Linked DNA regions of Homo sapiens. The protein of the gene in region 1 interacts with the protein of each later gene in a pairwise test. Each region holds a gene or a part of one and is shown on either strand. Other genes may lie near its edges.

Region 1 (7,024 bases):
AAAGCCAAAATTATAAAGCTTTTAGAAAAAAAAGTAGGAGAATATCTTTGCAACTTGAAAGTAGATGAAGATTTCTGTATCATGACCCAGATTGGCAATGACCATATCAATGACCATAAAATTATTAAATGATAAATTCAACTCTAAGTTAAAAACTTTTATACGTTAAAAGATGCCATTTAGAAAATAAATGGGCAAGCCAGACTGAGAGGATATATTTGGAAAATATATCTGACAAAGGACTGGAATCTAGGAAATATGAAGAACTCCTATAACTCAATAATGAAAGCAAAAACAATGGGCAAAAGATTTGAAGAAATACTTCAGAAAGATAGATACATGGCCAATTAGTACATGAAAATCTTACTGGAAATTACATGAAAAGCTGCTTAATATCATTAGCTGTCTTGGAAATGGAAAAAATTAAAATCACAGTAAAGTAGCACTCCATAAACACCAGTATGGCTAAAATCAAAAAGACAAAAAATGTTAAATATTGGCCAAAATGTGAAACCACTAGAACTCTTGTTTCAATTGTTGAAGCATAAACTAGTATGACCATTTTGGAGAAAGGTCGTGCTGTTTCTTATAAAACTAAATGCATCCCAGTAAGTTACCGTAGAACCCAGCAAATTCCATGCCTAGTTATTTACCCAGTAGAAATTAAAATATATGTCCACAAAAAAATCTAGAACAATATTCTTAGCAGCTTTACTTACTGTCACCCCAAATGGGGAACAATTCAGGTGTTCATTAACAGAAAAATGACTAGACAAATGGTGATTGTATTTGCGCAAACAATAGAATACTTACTACTCAGCAATAAAAAGGAACCAGCTACTAGTACATAAAACAACAAGGTTAAATCTCGAAAGTATTTTATGCTGAGTGAAAGAAGCCTTACACAAAGATGAACTGTATGGTTCCATTTTATGAAGTTCTAGAACAGGCAAAACCAATCTATGGTAGAAAAGGCGTGGTGGTTGCCTCTAGGGCTAGGGGGTAGGCCTTGATCAGGAATGGGGATGGGGGAATTTTCCCAGGTGAGAGTAATGTTTTCTATCTTGAGAGGGTTTTTGGGTTACACAGGTGTGTGCTTTTTGGGGAATCATTGAATGGTGTGCTTCAGAGGTTTGTGCATTGCATTGGATACAAATTTTGCTTCACAAGAAGAAAAGAGAAACTATAAACAAACATGTCACGCTAGTTAATGACATGCATATTGAAGAGTTTGGGGGAAATGTTACTGATTTCTGCAACTTCGAAATGTATCAAAAAAGTAAAATGTGGATAAAGAGAGGAATAGGTGTGATAAAAAAAAAAGTACAGTGAGATGCCAATTGTAGAATCTAGATGGATTTGATATCAAAATTCTTTCAACGTTTCTGTATGTTTGGAAGTTTTTACAGTAAAACATGGGGAGAAAAGGTCTGCTGCTTGTCCATGCCGCAGGTCGCTAATCTCCTGGACAGGTCACTTTATTCGATGTCCCTCTCCAAAACTAGAAGGTTGAACCCGATGTTCTCTCATGCCCGTTCCAGACCTGACATTCTGTGGATGGAAATGAGTTCAGAGAGCACCTGAGCCCAGGGCCTTTGATCAGTTTAAACTGATCATTTGCTGCAGCTCCTTCCTTAACACTCAGTTTTTTTGTATAATGGTTAAGATTATTTACAAACTCGGAGTCAAGACATAGAAACCAGTTTTCACCTGAAAATGAAAACAGGGGATTTGTTTTAAGCAGATAATGCTTTATGCAAAGATAGTTCACCAGATCCACAAGTAGAATTCCCATCAGGCCTCACGTGGGCCTAAACCAGAAAGCAGAAGGCTGTTGAGAGGCCACGAGCACTCTTTCCCTATCTCTTACCATTGCTTCTATCTGGGCATGGCTGCTTTGTTCTTCCTCAGCAGCCAGACTACAAGGTTAGTGGAAAATGACAGCCAATGGCTACCAAGTTCATCTGTTATTTTGACAGCCACACTGCAAGTGTCTGTCATTCTTAGTACCATTCCCAAATTTTCAAAGAGATTTCATTTACGGAGCTTGGTCTAACCCAATATAGCCAGAGGGCAGGGCCATGTATATAAATTCAGCTACCAATAAAGGACTTCTGTGGGCAGCAGGGACGGGTGGTGGTGCTTGTGAGCCTTGCAGACATTCCCAAAGGTGTCTGCTTTTGTCTGAATCATCATTAGCAAGAACGTCCATTTCAAACCAGCAACATCATGAGTTCAATTAGATCATTCACACAGCAGGACCCCAGTCTGACATTCTGGAAACATACCCTGCCTTGTTTGGGGCTACCTCCTTCCAAACTGGGAAGAAAATACCGTACCTAAATTGGGGTCTGGAGAGAGTAACAATGAAGGGAGACAGGTTTATATTATATCCCCCAACAACAACGGTCTTCAAAGAACTGCCTGGTTCTGGACACTGTGGCCCTATTTTAGTTTGCGTAAGAATCACTCGGGGAGCTTGCTAAAAATGTAGCTTCCCCTCCCCTGCACCCAGAGATTCTGATGCAGCAGGGCTAGGATCAGGCCCAGGAAGCTGCATTTGTCATAGGTGCACCAAGTGATTCTGAGGCTCATGGTCCCTGGCTGAACAGTCCACGGAAAACTCCATGTTAGGAAAAATCTCCTGGTTCGCATCACACAGAGATTCCTAGGACCAAATTGTCTTTGAGACTTAGAGGTATATACTGAAAGTTATGACAGTAGAGTAACAAACAGAGAGGCAGACGTTTGGGGACCTAGGAAAAAAATCCCATAGTTCCCAAGTGTCTGCCAGCAGTGGCATCTCAGAAGGTGTAACCCTGTGTCTGGCTCCTCTGAGCACGGGCAGGAATGTCCTTAGCTCTCTGTATCCTTCTGATCCTTTATTCTTTAACTTTTAGGATGGAAAGAGATGCTGCATTTACACAGAAAAAGGCAGAAAGGGCATGCCTCAGAGTTCATCTCAGAGAAAAATACAGGCTCCCAAAGGTAAGACACTCTGGAAACATCTAATCATTTCTTAATTAATGATAAATGGGAAGTCATGGTTGATTATCCACAAAGGATCATGTTCCTGAATATGAATATATATATATATATTCAAGATATATATATATATAAAAATATATATATTCAGGATATGTATATACATATTCAGGATATATATATATTCAGGATATATATATACACATATTCAGGATATATATATATTCAGGAGATATATATATATATATACACACACACATATTCAGGATATATATATATATATGCACACACGTATATCCTAATCATAACTGAAATGTTTGATATAGTGAAAAGAGCACTGAACTAGGAGTTCATAAAAACTTGATTCCAGTTTTTAACTTAACCTCTATGAACTTCCACTGTTGCTAAAAAAAACTGGAGTTAATACCTATAGATGACATTTTAATGTAAACTTATCTAAAGGTTCTAGAACTTCTCTATGTAAATACACAACAAGGACAATAATCATAGCTCACATTGGTTGAGCTCTTTCTAGGTACCAGGTACAGTACCTTGGCATGTATTAAGTCATTTAGGTTCTATTATCATCTCTGTCTTATCATAGAGGAAACACAGGCATGAAGAAAGTAGGTACCCTCCTGCCATGGGCCAGATAGCCAGGAAAGATAGAGCCCACGGTCCTGATTTCTATGATATTCCACCTCTATTTAAAAGGAACCATCGCTTGCTGGTTTGGGGAATAATGTAGTAGTGACAGTCATCACCTAGCACCATCTTATGCATCTCAGCACTGGCTGAGGGTGACTGCTGTAGGCTGTGGTCGAGTGAGTCGTTGGTCTCCTGGTGGGAAGGGAATGCGTTGACATGTTGTGGAACACGTCTTGGAGGTACTATTCCAGGGCTTGCATCCAGTAGTGACAGAGGGCCCATCACTTTGCTACTCTGACTCATACCACCTGACTCCACCTTCACTACCTGTCTACCTGACTAAATGACTCCACCTTCACCTTCTGAGCTGGTTATTCAATTTCATATTCCAAAGATGCGCCATCCCTTAAAGAACATCTTCCATCTGGAGAAGCCAAAGTAAAAGATCCCTCCAAAGGGCATGATCCCAAGTATGAGAGCCATCTCCAAGTCTGGGTGGTCTAGAAAGTGCTGCTAAACCAATTCCTTCCATGGATCCCCAGCAGATCCCAGAAAAAGCTGATTTTAGAAACTACAAGCACTAGACAAGGGAGAAGCCACTGTCTATGCAAGGTCACTGATGAAATCACCAAAGACTTAAACATGGTAGAGGTTGATCCCTAAGGTGCCCAAGGAACCTGGGTTCTGTTCTTAATAAGGGAAGGAAAACCCACAATAAAATGTAAGCTCATTTCATTCACAACCAATGAACTTGGAAAAGAATGCCTTGCTTTTCCTACCCCCAGCCCCGTTCAGGTTTAATAACTTTTCCTCACTGTGCTTGCATTTTGGAAGAGTGAAGCACTTCTAAACACTGTCCTTTCCACTTTCATTGTCTGGTGAATTTCCTGAAACTCCCTGGATGTCATTGGCTCACTTTAGCAATGTGGTCTCGCCCTAGGCAGGAAGATTGAGTCGGATTCATGCTACTGCGCTGAAGCCCCTGGCCTCTGCTCTTGGGCCATCTGATTAAAGCATCATCAACTTGTTGGGATGAAGCAGAAATTTCACACACACACACACACACACACACACACACACACACACACACACGATTGGCTGGGTGTGCATCGTCCAGAATGTAGGGCTTTTTACAGATTTATTTTTGGCAACTGTTATTCTTCTGTAGGGATCTAGGGAGAATTGGGGTTCCGTTGTAGCTCTGTGATGCAATATCACATGGTTTTTAAAAATATCTGAGTCTCTTAATTTATGCAGCAGCAATAGAAAAAAAAATCTGAGCCTCAGTATCCTCATCTATAAAATGAGGGCTGAAGTACCTAACTTCATAGGATCTTTGTCTGAGATAATGTAATATAAAGGACCTAGTACAACGCCTGACAATAGAGCTCTTATTATTGACATTATGATCTCTGGGCACAAAAGTCTTATTTCCTGATAATAACAACCAGGGGTCTTGAGGACCGCCAGTCCTTAGGTGTGTAATCAATGCAACAATGGAGGTTCCTGAGCCTCAAGGCCCCAAGCCTTTTATCTGTTTCTCCACTAATGGTAAATCAGCAGTCTTGCTGACTTCCAGATCTTCAGGGGTGAACACCCTTAGGCTTAGCAGTAAGGTTTAAGTACTCTTCCAAGAAAAATAATTCTTAAATCTCTGTGCCAGGGTATCTTTTGAAACAAGAGCCTTTCCAACAGAAACTATGGAAAGAGGAAAAAATGATAGCCATGAAATGCACAAATCCAGGTCCTCTCTGGAGAATGATTGTGGCTATACCTGCATAGGCTACTGCTCTCTAAAGCCAGCTAGGGGGAGGGACCGACATGAAGGATGTTGATAAATAACAGTAGAGCCCACCAGTGTCTTTCATTGCATGGCTTACTGATGTTCATATAGCCCCTTTTCTACAGCTGTTTCAAATGCATAATGCATTTGAGACCCCACCTGATTTTCTCATAGACCATGAAAGAGACCATAAAGCTCATCTAATAATCTCATACCACTGCGTCATTTTACACCTGAGATAACTGCAGCCCAGGAGGGTTAAGTAGCTTTGCAATAAGCCACATCTCCTGTGACAGACTTAGGACTGGAACTCAGGCCCCACAACCATGAAAAAGAGCAGCTTGTTCACAAAAGGACTTCAACAGGGCTCCTCCTTTCAAGGCATTTGTTCTTTCTACTCTTTTTTTCTTTTTCTTTTTTTTTTTTTTTTTTTTGACACAGAGTCTCACTCTGTCACCCAGGCTGGAGTGCAGTGGCATGATCTCCCCTCACTGCAAGCTCTGCCTCCTGGGTTCACCCCATTCTCCTGCCTCAGTCTCCCGAGTAGCTGGGACTACAGGCGCCCACCACCACTCCTGGCTAATTTTTTGTATTTTTAGTAGACACGGGGTTTCACCGTGTTAACCAGGATGGTCTCGATCTCCTGACCTTGTGATCCGCCCACCTCGGCCTCCCTAAGTGCTGGGATTATAGGCGTGAGCCACTGCGCCCGGCCTCTTTCTACTCTTAATATTTTGAGCTGTTCCCCAAAATTTTAGGGCAGTTTTGAATTCCACGTGGCTTAAAAAAATGGGAGCATATTATTTCTCCTGTGTTGTCTAACGGTTTGACCCTAGATCTGCAAGTAGCTGTCTAAATTCCAAATACAATCCAAACAAACAGATAAGAATTTCACTTGAGAACATTGTACACACCATCATTCATTGCAGTTTACTTCCAGGTGGGGACCCCCTCCTCCAAGGGCGTTTTTATATTTGGTTGCATTTGTAACAATGGATTCTACACACAATGTTTCAAAACCGTGCCTATGGTATGGAAGATACTACAAATACCAATAATACAATTGCCTGCTTTTTGTAAAGCACATGGAAATTCTAATCCCGTGTAGCTAGCTATAAAAATAGCACCTAATAAAACTATATGATAAGAAAAATCGGCTACTCTGGGCAGACTGCCCTGCTCTGCAAGGAGCAGTTTAAAAACTAAAATTTAAAAGTTTAAAAAATCAGCTGGATCGTATTCCACTTAGTCCAGTTATCACCAGCTGTGGCTAACTTCCCCTACCCCAGTGCAACACTTTGCGCTTGCAAACCAGCCCCACCCTTGGGCGCCTCCTCTGCCTCCCGCGCTGTCACTTGTCGCACGTTACCCTCCCGCCCGCGTCCCCGCACTGACGAGGCTCTGGGTACAGGGACCCTTCGATGGCCCATGTGGCGAAAAAGAGGCTGCGGGGGACAGACACGTTTCCCAGGCTAACGTCTGCCCAGGCTATGCAGAACAGCCGCTCCCGTCCAAGCCAGATCCTGGCTGGAGCAAGGAGGGCGCAGCGGTCGCCAGCGCGGGCCCCGAATCCTCGACGCCGGCGCCCCCTGGTGTTCCTAGCGCCGC
Region 2 (7,267 bases), on another chromosome or scaffold:
CCCTCCATCAGGGTTCTCTGCCCCAATTCAGGAAAGCCTGAATGATTCTGGAAAATTCATCCAAGCTGTGGGCGAGCTGATGGTGACTAGATGGTCAGGACCAGTCTGCTGTCTGAGTCCCCTCCTACCCCAAACTCCATCTTCCTGGTGGCCCTCCTGGAGGGAATGAAGTCACTGTTTCCCCTAGCCAGGCTTGTGGGTGGGAAATCCCTGCTGGCCCCAGAGGAATGGTCCATCCCGCCTCAGCCCCTCTGCCCTGCACTTAGCAGAAGCTTCTGGCCAGTGATAGCCTCAGCCACACCCAAGGTCTGGACCCTCAGCCAACATCCGAGGCTCCGTCCACTCTCCTCCGGATGAAGCCCAAGGCTCTCCCACCGGGAGACGGGGCCCAGACAGTCCTGGGAACAGCCAGCTCTGGCTGGAACGTGGGTCACCCAGGCACGTCAGGAATGAGGCACATCTGGAAAAGCCTTTGCCGAGACCATTGCTGTCAGCAGGGCCAGGCAGTGCCCAGCTTCAGTGGCCTCAAGCCCCGCCCAGGGTTCAGAAGTGGGGGTGGGGGCTGCCCCCTTACTAGCTTGGCTCGGGCCCGAGTCCATGGGAGGACCCAGGAGCCAGCAGAGGGCGAGGGAACAGCACCTGCTAAGTCAGGAAGTCCTGGAAGAGAGCTGGGCTGCACACAGTACCTGCCCTGGAGCCCAGCCTCCTAGGGCTCACTGGGACCACAGGGGTGGCTCTGGCTGCCCTCAGCTCCTCTGTTGCCCACTCTTAGCCCGGTGCTTCCATTCCCACCCCACCACCCTAATTATACAGGGTTGTTGGAGGCTGTCCCCTCCCTCCCTCCCCACCCCCAACCCATCCTGGCACCTCTCTGGGCCTGCAGCCCCCAGATTTTGTACTGGGATTTCTGTCTGGTAACCAGGTCATTGGGGGCCCTTCCTGACAGGTGTGCAGAGAACTGCATTTGGGCTCTGGGATGGGGGCATCCTGAGTTTTAGTGCCAGCTCTGCCTTTCCTTGGCAAGTCACTTACAATCTGAGCCTTTCGGGGTTGCAGGAAACAGGCCCCAGCTGGACACTGTGTCCTTTCTTCCTTTCTTCCTTCTCTGGTTGGCCTGGATTTGTGGCAGATCAGGGAAAAGGAGGCGGAGGGGTTGGAGACGTCCCTGGGCCTGGGGCTCCAGCGGCAAGCCTTTCCCCTTTTTAGCCACATGGCCGGGTAACAGCCACAGGGCCCCTCGGAGGTGGTGGGCACGTGAGCTCTGTATTGGCATTCCTGGCCGTGCCTGCATTCTGGTGGCGCCTCCTGGCGACAGCCATGCCTTCCTCCAAAAGAATGGCACCATAATGGTGGTATTAAAGGCAGAGGCCACACTCACAAGGGGGAGAGGTTGGGAGATGCAAGGGGTGGTGGAGTGACACCCTGAGGACCCGCATAGCCTCCTGAGATTGGTGGGCACCTACTTGCCTGGACAAAAGTGCTTTGCCTGACCACTTCCCCCTGGTCCCCCTGGCCTCCTGCCCCAATGCAGAACAAGGGCTTCTGCTGAGTGCACACACACACACACACACACACACACACACACACACACACACACTCTGCAATACCTCGATCATCAGCCACCGTGTCCTCACCTAACCTGCGGGCCCTCACACCAAGATGGAAACTGCATGTGAACAGGAGCTGGTCTGTCTGGCTCGTGGCTGTCTCCCCTGTACACAGAGCAATGTCTGGCATGTGACACACACTAAACATTTATCCAACTATATGTTGGATAAATTAGTAAGTTCCAGATGACTCTCACCCACATGGGCCCCCTGGAAAATCATGGGTCCTCGGCTGCACAGATGCTGACCCAGCCACGGACACCATCATGGACACACGGGACATGCCTGGGTCCATGCAGGCCCGTTTTCCTGTCTCTGCCACTCTGCATGGCCACACTGGCCTGAGTTCAGTGGCTCCTTGCGGCCTGGTGCCTGCTCTGCCCCTGCTTCTTTCCTCAAGTCTTCTTGGCTGGGTCCCAGCACCCGACAGCCTCAGAACATAGCAGGGCAGGGACAGGTGAGGGGAGGAGGAGGTGTGTATGTCCCTCAGTAGACATGGTCTACGGGAGATGCCCAGGAGCCTGTGGCCTGAAGGGAAATGGCCATGTTCCAGAGGACCCTGGTCTAAGGGGTGCCACCCCTGCCCTCAGGAGCCAGGTCTGCAGGAGAAACAGTTTGCCCTCCAAAACTTCAAGGTGAGGGGATCCTAGCCCTGCAGAGAGAGCTCTGGTTGGACGCCCCTGAAACTGACCAGAGAGCTCCTCATGTGGGTCAGTGTCCCTGCCAGGGCATGGGGCCAGGGGCCAGGGGCCAGGGGCATGAGGGAGCCTCCCAGAGACTGGAATGCTGAGCCAGGGCTCCTCAGAGGAAAGGATGTAGAGGAGGGCCCAGGAAGTAGCCCAGTGGGGCCAGTTTCCTCTCCTGGACAGCTAAGAAAGTACTTATGACCTTCGGCCACCTGGGCTGTCTGAGCAGGCAGGGCCTGCTGGCCACCACCGTCCTGTACAGGCACTTAGGGGAATGAATCTTCCCCACCTGCAGCCCCAGCAAACACACACCAGGCTGGTCCCTGGCAATTCACCCCAAGAGCCAGGCCACAGCTGGGCAGAGGGGTGGCCAGTAACAGCTGGTGTCATTCTCTGCAGGATAGCCCCTGGACAAGAGGCATAAGACCCACTCATCCTTGCCCTGCCCCAGGCACACTTAGAAAAGTCCTCTCACCGGGCCTCAGTTTCCCACCTATAAATGGGAAGATGCCAACACGCCCGAGTGGGACTGTGGTGGGGCAGGCAGGAGGTGGGAGGAGAGCCCAGATCATCCCAGGCCTTCCCTAGGGGACGCAGGGGGACCCTCCCTTCTGGGCCTGGTTCTTCCAGCACGTTCCATGCAGCAGGCAAGAGGGCCAGGCCCAGGGGTTCCTGACAGCTTGCTGGCCCTGGAGTCCAGATTCTTGTTTGTTGGCTGGCGCTAGGCCTCTGGATTGGAGATGCCCGGGGCACAGGCGGCCCACGGGGATCTGCAGCAGGGCCTCGGCCCCTCCCTCTGCAGGGGCTCGTCTGGTCCCTCCCGCTCTCTGCCTCTCCTCATTTATCTCTCCCTTTCTGCTTCTTGGCTCTGGGTCCAGTCCTATCTCCCCTGTTTCAGTTTGTCTTTTCCTAGCCCTTTGCGCTCTCTCTGTCTCTCTCAGCCCTGCTTGTCTCACTGTCTCTGGCTGGGGGATCTGTCTCTTTCACTTCCACTTTTGCTCTATTTCCCTGCTACTGTCTTTCCTTTCTCCTTGTCTGTCTCTTCTCCTCCCCTCAGCCAGCATCTGTCTGTCTCTGCCTTTCTCTCCTGCTCCCTCCCTCCCTCCTCTCCAGCACCTTCCAATGCCAGGTGGGGCTGCCATTCCTTCCACCTTCCCAGTGACCCGCCAGTGTGACTGCCTTGAGAGGAAAGTCCTAAACTGTCCCTATCTTCACCAGCCTGCCCTCAAATCATTGGTTCAAATCGCTGTCGAGAAGTTTGGGAGCTCCCAGGGCGGGGGCTTTCTAACAGCTCTGCCTAGCTCGGGCCTGCCCTCAACCGCAGCATGCAGGGCAGCCACAGACAACCTCTCTGCAACTTCTGATGCCTCCGTGCCCCCATCCACAGAGCCCTGGCTCTGGGGGACTGGGGACTCTGGGACATCCCTAACATGGCATGCAGTGGCGGTGCGGGAGGACTTGACTGCCCCTCTGGAGCCCTGGGCCCGGGGACTCCAGGCCAGTGCCTCTCTGGGTCGGGATGGGGATGTCAGGCCAGCAGGATCATGGTACCTGCCTCCAGGGAGGGCAACGTCCACCCACTGAGTCCAGCCCGCCCACCCCACCCACTCCGGAGCACCTGGCTCTGCCCTCAGGAACTCCCTGAGCTTTGCACACAGGGCCGAGACACCTGGATTTCTCTGGTTCCCTGAGTGGGGCCAGCTTGGAAGAATTTCCCAAAGCCTATTAGAGCAACGGCTGCCTCCTGCCTGCCTCCTTGGGCTGGGCAGGGCTGAGGGCGGAGGGAGAGAGAGAGAGAGGGAGGGGGAGAGGAGGAAGGAAAAAGTTGGCAGGCCGACAGCACAGCCGTGTCTGCATCCATCCAGAGGAGGTCTGTGTGGTGTGGGGCGGGCCAGGAGCGAAGAGAGGCCTTCCTCCCTTTGTGCTCCCCCCGCCCCCCGGCCCTATAAATAGGCCCAGCCCAGGCTGTGGCTCAGCTCTCAGAGGGAATTGAGCACCCGGCAGCGGTCTCAGGCCAAGCCCCCTGCCAGCATGGCCAGCGAGTTCAAGAAGAAGCTCTTCTGGAGGGCAGTGGTGGCCGAGTTCCTGGCCACGACCCTCTTTGTCTTCATCAGCATCGGTTCTGCCCTGGGCTTCAAATACCCGGTGGGGAACAACCAGACGGCGGTCCAGGACAACGTGAAGGTGTCGCTGGCCTTCGGGCTGAGCATCGCCACGCTGGCGCAGAGTGTGGGCCACATCAGCGGCGCCCACCTCAACCCGGCTGTCACACTGGGGCTGCTGCTCAGCTGCCAGATCAGCATCTTCCGTGCCCTCATGTACATCATCGCCCAGTGCGTGGGGGCCATCGTCGCCACCGCCATCCTCTCAGGCATCACCTCCTCCCTGACTGGGAACTCGCTTGGCCGCAATGACGTGAGTGGGGTGTCCCTGGGCTTGGGGGGGTTCTAGAATGATGCTGAAAGGCACTGGTTCCATCCTCTGCCCATTGTGCAGATGGGGACACTGAGGAACGGAGAGGACAAGAGGTTGCTGGAGGTCACGTAGAGAGCTGGGGGGAAGAGCTGGGGCTGGAACTCAGCTATGCATGCCTCCCAAAGCCTGTTTTCTGCCAGGCACTGTGGGAAGCTGAGATCCAGAGAATAATGGTCTTGCCAATGTCCCCTGCAGGGCATCTATTATGGGGAATAAGCTTGGCCAGCAGTTCCTCGCCCCTTGGCTGTAGCTTTTTGGCCCTTCTCAGTCCTGCCTGTGCCGCCAGCTCCCTCCTCCTGCAGCCCTGCACCCTGGGGAAACTTTGCCCGCTGTCCCCAGCCACCCTGAACCAAATGCCCAGCCTGTCTGCAGCTGGCTCTGCAAGTGTGTGAGCAGGACTCCCTCAGGGAGCCCCCCATATTCACACTAGTTTCCAAATAAACCACCTCTAGGAATCAAGAGAAAGGCCCTCTTCCACTCTTTTGCCCCTGAGATTAGACAAAGATAAGGGAGTGAAAACACTCTCTGGGGCTGTTTGAAGGCAGTTTTCCTGGATTACAGTATGGGCTGGGGGGCAAGCGCTGGGCTCCATGGTCTCTAGGCACTGAGAGGTGTGGCGTGTGTGTGCATGTGCGTGTGCGTGTGTGTGTGTGAAGGTGTGTATGTGTGCATGTGTTTGCCAGCATGAGTCTCTGTGCTTGTGTCAACTGTGTGCATGTTTGTGCTGCTGTGTAAGGGTGTGTGGGGGTGAGTTTGCAACACGTGCCCATGGCTCCTGGCTTGAATGGGGTCTGGACTGGGGTCACTAATGACAAGCAGATGCTGGTGACTGGGTGGCAGCTGTGGAAAAGAATGTCTCCTGGGCTGCTTAGCATGGCAAATTGGCCCTGGTGGCAGCTGCCTGCTGTCCCAGACACGGCCTTTCCCAGCTCCTCAGACAAGTGCAAACTCAGGCCGGGCTTGGGCCACAGCAGGGGAGGATTTGGCCTGAGAGACTGGGGAAGGCTTGGAGGATGTCTCTGAGGGCCCAAGGGACAGGTGAGCAGGCCTGGGGGTGCCCTTACAGGGAGGGAGAGAAGCCAAGGAGCAGAGAGGAGGACTCGTCTAGAGAGATGAGGCTGGCGGGGCTGTGGGCAGGGCATGTGGGTGTGGGGACGGTGTGGGCCATCTCTGAGGGCGCCTCAGAGATGGCAGATAGTGATTACAGCAGCTGTCCTCTCGCTTCCCAGCCAAAGTTCAGATCCTGCGGCTGGCAGCCCAGGAGAGGCTAGGTGAAGGTCTGGTGCAGAGGGCAGCTGGCTCAGCCTGGCCATGGGGGGCTTAGCACTTCTGTGTCACGGTGACACCTCACCCAACCTCCTCTGCAGCCAACCTCTGCTAGGCCCAAGATTGAAGATTAGCTCCGTGGGCTGGAGTTTAGACTTTAGCCAGTTTAGACGTGGCCGCGGGGGATGTACGGGACAGAGCTCAGGCAGGCCACATCAAGCTCTGCCCCCCCAGGCCTCAGTTGCCAGTGGGTGCAGAGCTTGTGGCCTCAGGGAGTTCTGCTGGGTAGGGTCAAGCTCACACTGAAGCTTGGCTGGGTATGATGGGCTGGGGGAGCGTCCCTGTAGGGGAGTGGATGTGATTTCCAGGCTTTCTGGCCCCGTCTCTTCCCTCCCATCTCACAGGGCGGAGCCTCTGCACCTGCTGGCGAAGGCTTCACCCTCTAGTATGCGCATCCGAGGCAGAGGCGGGAGGGTGGGCCCCTTCTGTGCCATCTGGAACAGAGGCCACACCAGCCTCCCGTGCCCCATTCCCTCCCTGGCCTTCATTTTTTATAGTCACCCCAATACTTGGGCTGGGCGTGTTGCAAATGGGAGAGAAAGAGGAGCAGCCTAGTGTGGGGTCCGGCCCTGGGCTGAGAGGCAGACACCTGGGTTCAAGACGTGTCCACTGCTAACTTGTTGAGCTTCTTTGGAGCTGCGGACCCTGACCCTCGAGAGGGAACTCAGGTCTTGTGACCTCACAGCCACACCCAGACAGCCAGCTCACTTCATTGCTTTGAGCTTATCACCCATCCCACGAAAGCTGGCTAAGAGCAGCCCAGCAGGGGCAGTGCTGAACATAAGGGCGCTTAGCATGATGGTGGGGGCTCAGGCGCTGTCCTGTCCCAACAGTGGAAGGGTGGGGTTCAGGACCTCAACTCTGGGCCTAGAAATAGAGAAGGTACCCCTCTAAGGGCTCCCGTCAGACACTGGCCCTGGAACTGGAGGGGCCTCAGGGGTGGCCTGGATGCCTCAAGAGGAGCAGGGAACAGTCTGGGCAGCAGGTGACACACTCTCTTTCATGACCTGGGGTAGGCTCCTGCAGCCTCTCTGGCCCTGAGCCCCAGCCCAGTCAAAACCTGGGTGGGGCAAGTGGTTGGCATGGAGATTTCCAAGGAAAACAGAGAAAGATGTGGCAGGAAGTGGTTGGGGTGAGTCAGGGGGTGTCCCTTCGGGACATGCTGGGGACAAC
Region 3 (6,500 bases), on another chromosome or scaffold:
CCACGCCTGGCTAATTTTTGTATTTTTAGTAGAGACAGGGCTTCACCATATTGGCCAGACTGGTCTCAGACTCCTGACCTTGTGATCCACCTGCCTCGGCCTCCCAAAGTGCTGGGATTACAGGCGTGAGCCACCACACCTGGCCATATTGTACAATTCTTGAGATCTGACTGCTAAAAAAAAAAAAAGGAGCTAGGGAAATGTGGGCCACATCAATATAATAGCTCTTATTTATTGAGCATTTAGTATGTGTCAGGCGTTGTGCTAAGCTTTTGATTTACAATAAGTCACATAATCCTTAGCTAACATTATTATCAGCACTTTACAGAAGAGGAAGTGGAGGTCAGAAAGGTCATATCCTCAGTCTCAGTCACTCAGCTGGTGAGTGGCAGAAGCAGGATTTCAACAGACGGGTGCAAAGCAGAGCCCTGCTCCTAGTCTCTGAGCTGAGTGCCGACTTAGGGAGGCAATGTTATACCGGTACTTGCGCCCATTCATCTGACGACAGTTAGAACAGTTTCTTGGATACTAGACAGGAGATGGGGAGACAAGGAGAGTTAGGATAGGGAGGTTTTTTTGTTTTTGTTTCTTTGTTTTTTCTTGAGACAGGGTCTCACTCCTTTGCCCAGGCTGGAGTGCAGTGCGCAATCTTGGCTCACTGCAGCCTCTGCCTCCTAGGTTCAAGCAATTCTCCTGCCTCAGCCTCCCGAGTAGCTGGGACTATGGGCAGGCACCACTTTGCCTGGCTAATTTATGTATTTCTTGGTAGAGGCATGATCTGCCCACCTTGGCCTCCCAAAGTCCAGGGATTACAGGCATGAGCCACCGTGCCTGGCCCAGATGGTGTGGTTTTGAGAACTGCGTTTTCATAGGAGGAATCAAAGAGATTGAGCCCAGAAAAACCTGAGAGGTTTGAGTGTCATAGAGGGGATATTCTGTACAGGGGGCAACAGTCTGTCAAGAACATTTCCTGTGTAACTGCCACTCTCTGGCAATTACACAACTGCTCCCCTCTCGCCCTGGCTCAAAATTCCAAGCCCTGCAGGCTTCTGGCCTCAGGTCTCAGAAATGCCTGTCTCACCCTTCTTCCTTTCTCCACGCTCTGCTTGTCACCCCTCTCCCGCCTGGTGGCCATCTCCTGGCAGTCTTGCTGATGGTACTTCTCCACCCCTCTGGCTGGCCTCTCTGCCATTTTCTTACTTCTATCTGTGCCTGTCTACCACCAATAGAGAAATTATCCTGAAGCACTTCTTCACTGTCACCCGTGGCTCAAAAACCACACTAGCTCTTAAGTTTTATCAGTCGCTTGGAGCCAGTCTTCTCTACCTGACCTTTTCTGCCTTCTGTCCTGCCCCATCCCTCCCATCCTCTGCCTGGTCCTCACTGTCAGGGTGTATCCCTATCTCTCAGTGCAAGAATGTCCCTGCTCCATGTCATCCTTCAAGGGGTCACCCGCCCCCACCATGGCACCCTCTCTGTGGCAGCTCTGATACTTACTATCTGTATCGCACAGTGTAACTCTTTACTCTTCTCTAATTGTATTACATGTGTCTTTTCCCCAGGGCAAAGTGGTCTCTTTAAGAATAGGCACAATTAGGCCAGGCATGATGGCTCATGCCTATAATCCCAGCACTTTGGGAAGCTGAGGTGGGAGGACTGCTTGAGCCCAGGAGTTCAAGACCATCCTGGGCAACATAGCAAGACCCCATCTTTAAAAATATAGGCACCATTTATTCAGGAACTGTTTATCACATCTCTGCTGTCTGCAGACATTATGCTGAGTGACAGTGTGGCGTAAGGCAGTATGGCCCTTGTCCTCTTGCTTACCTCCTTCCAGGGTCCCTGGAGCTTTATTTCTCACAGTGCCAGCAGAGACCTGTGTATATAGTCAGTGTCCTTTTTCCTCTGGTTGAGTGGGGGCCAAGGAGGGCCCGAGACTTGAGTCTAAGGCCTCTGTGTTCCCTGGAGCGAATGTGTTCTTTTAGGCCTGGGTCCATCTTGGCTCCAGGCAGGCCTGGCTTCGCATTGGGGGAGACTGGTCCAGATTACAGCTGGAAGCACAGCCAGCTCTTTGGAGAATGTGACCCAAATATCACCCCTTGTTGAAAAATAAGGTAACAACAGCTGTAGCATTTAGAATAGAAAATAAAAAGATAATATCCAGCATTTTCCCAGTCTCTAGCAGTGACTCTTATTTTCGAGTATTTATCCATTCTCAAGTTTTTGCTTTGGACTATTTAATTTTGTTTTTTGTTTTGTTTTGTTTGCTGAGATGGAGTCTTGCTCTGTTGCCCAGGCTGGAGTGCAGTGGTGTGATCTCGGCTCACTGCAACCTCCGCCACCCAGGTTCAAGCGATTCTCCCATCTCAGCCTCCCAAGTAGCTGGGATTACAGGCATGCACCACCATGCCTGGCTAATTTTTGTATTTTTAGTAGAGACAGGGTTTCACCATGTTGGCCAGGCTGGTCTCGAACTCCTGGCCTCAAGTGATCTGCCTGCCTGGGGCTCCCAAAGTGCTGGGATTACAGGTGTGAGCCACTGCGCCCAGCCTGCCTTGGAGTATTTGAATGTGGGGAAGTTCAAAGGATTGAATGATGGAGCCTTGTTGAATGCTATAGTAGTAATAATAGTGATGACGGTTGACTCAGGAAAAGGTGAGAGTGCAGTTTCCCTGCTCTCTTCGTTGTTCCTCTGTGTTTCCTGCTTACTGCTTCCTCCAGCCTGTGAGCGCAGCCTCCCCTACAGTGGTTTGCCTGACCTCTCTTGAAGCAGGTTGCTTTTCTAGCTCATGGGTAAATATTGACCTATTTGGGTTTCAAATGCCTGCCCCTCGAAACTCATGCAGGGCTAGAAAAACATGCTGGGAGAACATCTCTTGAGAATAAGAATTGCTTTTGGTTAGGCTGTATCGTAATTGGCCCACTCACTGATTCCTTGCTTGCAATGGTCAGCACTGTGCTGGCCTCCCGGTGGGATGGTGGTGGACAAAGGCAGGGCACTGCTCCCTGCCCTCCCTCTGGGAGTTTGTGGTCCAGCTGGGGAGATAGGACTCATACAGTGGGAATTCTTGGAGGCTGTATACCAAGCAGCTGCAAGGATCCTGAAGGAGGATTCTTGGCTGAGTGGGAGGTAGCCCTCTGTGACCACCAGATCTCTTCTAACACTTAAGTTTTCTGGTTTTAAGTGGAATTCAGTCAAGTGCCAAAATGTCTGTTGTAGACAATGGGTGACGTGGGCTGGCAGGAAAAGAAGCTTGCCCTTCTTGTAAGGAGGGGAAGGGAACAGGGATGGGCTGTGGGGAAGTAGGCTAAGAGGAAGGAGTTTCTGTGGTTTGCTAATCCACTGGTATTCATCTCCCTGAAATGTCCCTGCTCCTAGGCTTCTGGCTTATACCAGGGCCTCCTGCCTGGTGTCTCTCTCTGTTACGTGCACCCAAAGCCCAGTGCCTTTCTTGCACATGACCCAGACTTTCTCTCTCCCCTGTCATTTCAACCTTCCCCAGCTTGGATCCAAGACCTCCCTTCCCAGTCCTCTGAAATGAGCTGGTGTTTTCTGTTAGGCAAAGCTGCCCCCCAGGCTGGGAAATCCAAGAGTTAGTCTCATCTCTGTAAGTTGGACCCCAGTGAGGACCCCAGCTGAGTGGAAGGCTGGAGGCCAAAAACCGGTACCACTGAGGTTCCCAGACGGAGAGGGAAGTTGGAGCAGTGATATAGGGAGCAGGATCAGGCCAGGAGGCAGAACTGGCCTGACCAGTCAGAGGCCCAAAGAGGAAGATCTGAGCTTCTCAGTTTGGGGATAGAGGGGTTAGGCAGAGACTATGATGTGTGCTGCTTCAAAATTACCTTTCTAGCCTGTAGGGTAGGTCTCCTCCCTGTGTGTTCCAGCCAGGTAGCTTGGTTACCCATTCTTTGCTGCCTTCTTAGGCCAGTGGGAAACCTTAGGGCAGCTGTGCATTGATTGGGTAGACGCCATTCTGGAGCAGGTGAGAAAAGAATCAGCTTTGTGGGAGGGTGGGGTCCTGGGAAGATCCCACCTTGGGACAGCTTAGAGGAAGCTGAGGTGCTGGAAGCCGGGACTTACCTAGGTCCTAGGCCCTGCCTTGACGTGCAAGGGGAGGAGCCTGTGAGACTTAAGGTGTGCCGCACTCACCCCGAAGGCCAGACCTTCACTCCGCACACATCATACCCTTACACGAAGGATGCTGTTACTCTCATGCTGTACCCACCTACAGGGGGAGAAGGAGGCTTCTAGATCTCAGGGGCAGATGAGGGCCAGGTGGGGGCCTCATGCAGCCCTGACCTCGGGCTTGGTGTCCAGGCAGGAATAGAGTTGGAGCGGTGCCAGCAGCAGGCGAACGAGGTGACGGAAATTATGCGTAACAACTTCGGCAAGGTCCTGGAGCGTGGTGTGAAGCTGGCCGAACTGCAGCAGCGTTCAGACCAACTCCTGGATATGGTGTGAGGCCTGGGGGAGCATGGAGGGGAGGGGAGAGGATTGGGAAAGTCTCTCTTGGGCTGTATTCAGGATCTCCAGTTCCTTGGTGGGGTTGAGGCCTTCTTGAGGGCCAGTGTGGGGCCTCTGGGTTTCCTCAGGCACCCATAGCCTAGACATGCAACAGATAGACCCCACAAGATAAGAAGGCCTTGGTTTGAAGCTGTGGACCTTCTTAAAGGTAGAAAACTGGTATCGTTTTTTGTTTCTTTTTTACTTTGAGACAGAGTCTCACTCTGTCGCCCAGGCTAGTACAGTGGCACAATCATATTTGCTGCAGCCTCTACCTCCCAGGCTTAAGTGATCCTCCTGCCTCAGCCTCCTGAAGAGCTAGGACTACAAGCCTGCACCACCATGCCTGTCTAATTTTTGATTTTTTGTAGAGATGAGGTCTCACCATGTTGCCCAGGCTGGTCTTGAACTCCTGGATCCAAGAGATCCTCCCACCTTGGCTTTCCAATGTGCTGGGATTACAGGCATGAGCCACTGTGTCCAGCCTGAGTACTGGCATTGTTAACTGAGGGTGAGACACTAGGGCTGAAAGTCAAGGGCCACACCGGTGTTTGAGATGAGTCAGGCTGGGAGGGTTCCACGGCAGGTGGTATAGAAAGAGAGCAGACAAGGCCGGGCGCGGTGTCTCACGCCTGTAATCCCAACACTTTGGGAGGCCGAGGTGGGCAGATCACAAGGTCAGGAGTTCAAGACTATCCTAGCCAGTATGGTGAAACCCCATCTCAACTAAAAATACAAAAATTAGCCGGGCGCAGTGGTGTGCACCTGTAGTCCCAGCTACTAGGGAGGCTGAGACAGGAGAATTGCTTGAACCCGGGAGGCAGAGGTTGCAGTGAGCTGAGATTGTGCCACTGTACTCCAGCCTGGGTGACAGGGAGAGACTCCTTCTCAAAAAAAAAAAAAAAAGAAAGAAAGTAGACAAGATGGGGAGGATGCAGGAGGAGACTAAGCCTTACTGAGATGGGGTTGGGAGGAGCTGGCTCCCAGGCCAAGAGGGTGCCAGCTAACTCCCACTTTGTGTCTGGGGGTATCCGCAGAGCTCAACCTTCAACAAGACTACACAGAACCTGGCCCAGAAGAAGTGCTGGGAGAACATCCGTTACCGGATCTGCGTGGGGCTGGTGGTGGTTGGTGTCCTGCTCATCATCCTGATTGTGCTGCTGGTCGTCTTTCTCCCTCAGAGCAGTGACAGCAGTAGTGCCCCACGGACCCAGGATGCAGGCATTGCCTCAGGGCCTGGGAACTGACCCAGCTGGTCCTGAAGGAGAAGCCAAATGGCTGCACTGGCCGATTCTGGTCTCCAGAGGACCTTGGTGTTTGCTCTCCCTTGACCCACCCCAGTGAGTGCCAAAGGGCAGCCCCAACATGTGCACCCCTGCATTTCCTGTCATGCCACAGACTGGCCCTTGAGGGCAGCCTGCTGTACTGGCCATGCTGGGCCAGCCCCACCTGGAGCTCAGTAAAAACTGCTGTTTGATTAAAAGCTGGTATCTGTGTGTGAAGGTCCCCAGGTTGGTTAATCCCATCTGTCTCTACCCCTAGGGCTGCTTAAAAAGCCCATCACCCAAAGGACTCCACCCCTGGGAGATGGCTCCTTCCTCTCCCTTCCCTACTTGATCCAGCCCGACACAGACAGGGAGTGTGGATGCAAGAACACAATGGCCCCCAAAGCAGACCCTTGAACCAGTCCTCCCCATCTGAGCCTGTTTCTCTGAGAATGAAATCTATTATTTTTCTGTCATCTTGGGGATGCTTAGAGGACCAATGAGACTGTAGATGCGATGACAAAGAAGAAAGCACTTCACCAATTTTTTTTTTTTTTTTTTGAGACAGAGTTTTTGCTCTGTTGCTCAGGCTGGAGTGCAATGGCACTATCTCAGCTCACTGCAAACTCCACCTCCTGGGTTCAAGCAATTCTCCTGCCTCAGCCTCCCAAGTAGCTGGGATTACAGGTGCCCACCATCACACCTGGCTAATTTTTGTATTTTTAGTAGAG

The links. Proteins that work in one complex are often made in the same cells at the same time.
Region 2: the proteins of CPLX4 (region 1) and AQP1 interact in binary tests that used the Homo sapiens proteins (3 or more experiments, as listed by UniProt).
Region 3: the proteins of CPLX4 (region 1) and VAMP5 interact in binary tests that used the Homo sapiens proteins (3 or more experiments, as listed by UniProt).

Annotation. Positions count from the first base shown.
Region 1 is NC_000018.10:59,308,649-59,315,672, reverse strand, and holds part of CPLX4 (complexin-4), read left to right. Parts: intron 1-2,900; coding exon 2,901-2,988; intron 2,989-7,024.
Region 2 is NC_000007.14:30,907,586-30,914,852, forward strand, and holds the start of AQP1 (aquaporin-1), read left to right. Parts: upstream 1-4,267; 5' UTR 4,268-4,324; coding exon 4,325-4,708; intron 4,709-7,267. UniProt on the Homo sapiens protein: Forms a water channel that facilitates the transport of water across cell membranes, playing a crucial role in water homeostasis in various tissues.
Region 3 is NC_000002.12:85,587,407-85,593,906, forward strand, and holds the end of VAMP5 (vesicle-associated membrane protein 5), read left to right. Parts: intron 1-4,318; coding exon 4,319-4,456; intron 4,457-5,541; coding exon 5,542-5,751; 3' UTR 5,752-6,000; downstream 6,001-6,500. UniProt on the Homo sapiens protein: May participate in trafficking events that are associated with myogenesis, such as myoblast fusion and/or GLUT4 trafficking.